Regions from separate parts of the Homo sapiens genome. Here region 1 is linked to region 2. The links come from fine-mapping of genetic effects on gene expression. Tissue or cell type: whole blood. Region 2 holds a variant in brackets; the other region holds the start of a gene. All regions are shown on one strand. Distances are between the middles of the regions.

Region 1 (2,500 bases), 42 kb after region 2:
CTGGGGGAGGTGTTCTCAGCATCCATTTTGGGGACAGTGGCCAGATGTACTCACATCACCAAACCCTACTCACCTGTCACTATCATCCCAGTGTTCACTGCCCCAGGGCCCCTCTAGCCTCCAGCAGCAAAGACCTCCTGGGGCTTCTAGAACCTCAGATCATTGGAGCAGGAAGCACTTCTTGTCTAACTCCCTGGGTAACTCTGTTTTGGCACTTAACCCCCTGGATTCTAAAGCTTCATTTATACTTATTGGTCTCCTTCGTCACAGGAGACACTTATCTGTGGAGCACTCATGGCCATGTATCCAGTACCTATCATGGGTCAGGCCTGGAGTCCCTGTGTCAATCAGTGTGGATCTACTCTCAATGCTCCCAGTGAGTACATGGTTGTTCCGTGGCAGGAACGTTGCATTTGTGTTCTCACTGAAGTCCCATATAGGTGTCATTTTCACTGATGATGTGGCAGCTCAGATCCAGGAAAGGATTCATTCCAGGGCCCTCAGGTGGGAAGTGGTGGAGGTGGGAGTCAGACCCCAGACCCTGTCACCCCTTCAAGACCAGTGCTGGAGGGCCCCTTTTGACGACTTTCTCTTCACCAAGCGTCTTGCCCTGCATATGTCACACAGTAGGCACCCAGTGAATATTTACGACGGAATGGAAAAAACAAGGGCCTGGAGGGAGAGACCTGGGTTCAAAACCTTATTTGTACAGCTTTGCAGGGGACCTTGTGGTGGAGGTGCGGTCCTAAATCCCTAAACACTCAGTTCCTTTGTCATATACAGCTGATAACAGTAACTCCCCGGTCAGAGGACCGGCGACAATTCCTTGAGACAAGGAGCACAGAGCCTGGCACAGTCAGCCCTGATCAGGGGCCGGTAGGACAAAGAGAGGGAGACAGAAACACACACCCAAACGGCTTGAGACTGCTAGGTGCTTCACCTTCCTGGGCCTGTTTCTGATGAGGAGGGTTTGTTTATTAATAATAAGTGCTATTTCTGTAGCCCCTACTATGTGCTCTGTATCACTACCCTAGCCCTCCATCAAGAGGGATCTGCCCTCTCATCTGGCTGACCCCAAATCGAACCCTTTAACCCGCATGCTCTACTGCCTCCCTGCGGGCCCTGCCTTATCCTCCTCAACCGCCCACTGGGGACACTCTGGAGAAACCTCGGAGTCTTGGAATAGAAACCCAGGAGCCCTGAGCCTTGGCCCTCAGGCCCCAGGAGGGAGGTCAGGAGGGAGGCGTGGACAAGGGTCCGGCCGTAGCTGGTCCCGTCCTGGAAGCTGCTTAAGTTCCTGGTTCCCACCGGGGCCAAGAGTGATACCTGATCCTGGGGGATTGTGAAATGACCTCATGTGGCAGCCCGCCCGCGGTGCCCGCAAAGCCCTCCACCCTCCCCTTCCCCGCTCGGCTCCACCCCTACCCCACGCCCCCTCCCGCGCGCGCGGTTAAATCCCCGCACCTGAGCATCGGCTCACACCTGCACCCCGCCCGGGCATAGCACCATGCCTGCTTGTCGCCTAGGCCCGCTAGCCGCCGCCCTCCTCCTCAGCCTGCTGCTGTTCGGCTTCACCCTAGTCTCAGGTGAGTGGGGCGGGGAGAGGCCCGGCGCCTAGAGGGGCCGAGCCACGAGCGCCAGGATGGAGCCAGGCGGAGGCGTAGCCTCTGGAGGCTGGGGAAGTGGGAATTCCGGGGGCGGAAGTGGCGGGGACCCTTGGAGCCTAGGGTGTGGGGTCCAATGTGCTGGAGGTGGAGAGACCACTGATGGCTGCAATTTGGGAGGATTCTGTGCTGAACGCGGACACTCCGTGGCTGCAGTGGGCTGGGGGTGGGGGCTGCTCTGCCTCGACCTCGGAAGCTCCGAGACGCTCAGCTGTGCGGCGTCCCCTAGGGCTGAGATCTGAGGGCCCCGACGCCAAGGGTTAGGGAGCTCTCGTACTCCCAGGGGTCAGGGACTCCTGGTCTGGAAGAAGGAGTCTCTGGGGGCTGTAAGGGGACTCCTAGGGCCAGAGACTGAGAATTCCTTGGGGTTAAGGTTTGGAGCAGGAGGTGGGCATCCTCTGGGGCTGGCGCTACGCCCCACCCTCGACTGTCCCGGGCCTCCCCTCCCAGGCACAGGAGCAGAGAAGACTGGCGTGTGCCCCGAGCTCCAGGCTGACCAGAACTGCACGCAAGAGTGCGTCTCGGACAGCGAATGCGCCGACAACCTCAAGTGCTGCAGCGCGGGCTGTGCCACCTTCTGCTCTCTGCCCAATGGTAACCCCACGGCGGCCGAGCGGGAACGGGGCGGGGCCGCGCTGGGCTGGGAGGAGGTGGGAGGGCCCGGGTTCCGGGAACAGGGGCGCCCCCGGACCCGGGGACCCCCGGGAAAGTCAAGGCGGTTGAAACCAGATCCGTCAGTCCTCTCCCTCGCACGGCCCAGGGGTAGACAAAGGCGTCGTTGAAACGCAGCCAAGGGGGGGTCCCCACCCCTAGCTGGGATTCGAGTCTCTGGTGCA
Region 2 (2,760 bases):
GGTGCTCAATAAGCAAAAGTGGTCGGTGGCTGCTGTATTGGACAGCACAGAAAAAGATTTCCATCACCACAGAAAGGTCGGCTGGCAGCACTGGCCAAGGTGATGGGGTGTGCTACACAGTGTATGTCACTGTGTAGTGGATGGAGTTTACTGTTTGTGGAATAAAAACGGCTGTTTCCGTGGTTCTTTGCCTCTTGTCCTTGAGTCCTGGGAAGAGCTGGGGACTGGGGATTGTTTGCTGAGTGCCTGAACAGGACCTCCTACCCTATGCCTGCAACCCCCTCCACAAAAAACAAAAAACCCTACCTCCTCCCACCTGGCCGGAAATTTCTTCTCCTGATCTGCTCCCCCTGTCCTCCCCATCCCCATCTGATTGTGATTCCCAGAACTCCCCGGGTTGTTTGGGAGTGTTTCTGAAAGCATAATCCATGGCCATGGAAATGAATCATCCTACTTCTTGGGGGCATTGAGAGTCAGTCCACATCAGCAAGGGTAGAGTGGAGAGGTGGGAGGGCTCTGGGTGGTGGGTCTCTAACTGTAGTGTGCATCAGAGTCACTGGGGGCACTTGTGAAAATAATGTATGTTCCTGGGGTCCAGATCCTACTAATTCAGTTGGTCTGGGTGTGGCCCAGACTTTGACTTTTTAGCAGGCTTCTCAGGAGCTCCTGCTGTGCTCTGTCCTCAGACCACCCCCAGGCTTTGAAGCCAGGCTCATTGGATTGAAGCCCGCCCCGCCCACCTCCCTTGCTGGTTACATAACCCTGGATTTCTGTAAAACAAGCCTTTAGGCGGTTGCCTCCCACTGCCCTCATCTTCTGTCTTTTCCTCTGGCACACTTGGCATCAACTGTGTGTTATTTGCAGTTCCCCCCACCTCCTACCCCACTCAGTTCTCCCATCATAGTGGTTTGGCCTAGAATGCCCTATTCCACCAACCATGCACACCTCTCAACTGCCTGGTTCCCTCATAAAACCAGATGAGGCTGGCCGGGCACGGTGTCTCATGCCTGTAATCCCAGCACTTTGGGAAGCCAAGGTGGGCAGATCACAAGGTCAAGAGATCGAGACCATCCTGGCCAACATGGTGAAACCCCGTCTCTACTAAAAATACAAAAAAAAATTAGCTGGGCATAGTGGCGCGCGCCTGTAGTCCCAGCTACTCGGTAGGCTGAGGCAGGAGAATCGCTTGAACCTGGGAGGCAGAGGTTGCAGTGAGCCAAGATTGCGCCACTGTACTCCAGCCTGGTGACAGAGTGAGACTCTGTCTCAAACACACACACACACACACACACCCCAGATGAGAAGTTGCTGCCTCCGGGAAGTTTCCCTTGACGTGTCCGTGCCCCACGCCTTTGCTTCCAGATTGCCTTGGACTTAACA[C/CGTG]GTGTTCCTTATCAGCTGGCTGCTGTCCTTTGACTTCCACCAGATGGTGTGCTTCCTGGAGGCACAGGTTCTGTCTTTCATTAAGACCTGACCCATCTCAGGACATGTAAGTGCTCAATCAGCAAACGCTAAATGTATTAACTGGGTATGGGCTATTCTGGCTTGAGATCTGGGATCCAAGATAGGGATGGGCAAGGGGCACTCTGGAAGCTCCACATGTGTGAGTGCAGCAGTCTTAACACAGTGGTACAGGTGTCTCTGTAGCCAGCATAGATGGGCTGTGTAGGTTCCTTGAAGGGTTTTAGGAGCCCTCAGCACATGCGGGTGGTATGTGTGCATATGTAGGAAGGAAAGGCGGTGAGCTAGTCTAGACCATGGGCAAAGGCAATTTGTTCAAGGTGCTTTTACTTGAGTTTACTTCAAAAGCAGTAAAGGAGCAGACTGTAAATGAGACAGGAACGCAGGTGAGTGGATACACAAAGCTAAGTGGTCTGTGTAGTGTGCCTAGTGTGGGATGGAGCATGCATAGCATGGGGTGTCTGCCAAGTCAGAAGAGCACAGAGCTGTGGCCTGGCTCTCTTTTATACCCGCAGCCCTGTCAGTACCTAGAAACGACCTCCACTACCATGCCACATGTAACCTACGCTCTGGCAACACCCACATATTTCTAGATCAGACCTCCTCCCTGGATCTTGGATTCATTTACCCAACTGCCTACTTGCTTTCTCCATTTGGATGTCTAAAGACATCTCAAATTGAATATCTCCAAAACCGAGCTTCTGATGTGCTCCACCCCACCCCAAACAGGCCCAACCATAGTCACCTCATCTCTGTAAAAGGTAATTCGTGTCTTTCCAGGCACTCAGGCCAAATACCTTTGAGTCATCCTTGTCTCTCTCTCATCCTGTTTGCACCCTACCTTCAAAATAAATCCAGAATCCCACCCCTTTTCACCACCTCCACTATTATCAGTGAGGTTTTCCCTGGCCATACCCTATTTCAAATTGCTATCCTAGCACGCTACATTCACCTGGGGAACTGAAAAAATCCTGATGCCCAGGCTTTACCCAAACCAGTTAAATCAGAATTTAATGTGGGACTCACAGAGTCTCCAAGTGACACCAATGTGTAGCCAAGCTTAAGAACTTGGTCTTATTTTTAAAGTAGTATGAAAACTTACTGTCTCTCCTAAGCATTCTAACAATGGATACTTTTCAGAATAAGATTGTGTAAAACAGAGAACTCACTTTTAACTTTATAACAATTTATGTATTGTTTGTCTTTTTAAAACAAAAGTATATGTTGAGTTTATAATAAAAGTAAAAATTTGGGCCGGGCGTCGTGGCTCACACCACTCCCAGCACTTTGGGAAGCCGAGGT

What was found. PIP is the estimated chance that this variant, and not a neighbour inherited with it, causes the effect.
Region 1: WFDC2 starts here. The variant in region 2 is fine-mapped to the expression of WFDC2 in whole blood (TOPMed, PIP above 0.99). The same link has a PIP of 0.9 or more in cerebellar hemisphere, cerebellum, hypothalamus, nucleus accumbens and prefrontal cortex.

What each region holds. Positions count from the first base shown.
Region 1 is chr20:45,468,275-45,470,774 of GRCh38, forward strand. It overlaps WFDC2 (WAP four-disulfide core domain 2), which reads left to right and starts at 1,479. Exons shown (of 4, transcript NM_006103.4): 1 at 1,479-1,586; 2 at 2,115-2,258. The coding sequence starts at 1,508. RefSeq lists silencers at 2,144-2,333, 2,354-2,403.
Region 2 is chr20:45,426,060-45,428,819 of GRCh38, forward strand. It overlaps PIGT (phosphatidylinositol glycan anchor biosynthesis class T), which reads left to right. Exons shown (of 12, transcript NM_015937.6): 12 at 1-182. LOC105372631 (a long non-coding RNA gene) reads left to right here and starts at 1,363. Exons shown (of 4, transcript NR_159957.1): 1 at 1,363-1,486. The variant C/CGTG (reference allele first, on the strand shown) is at 1,381.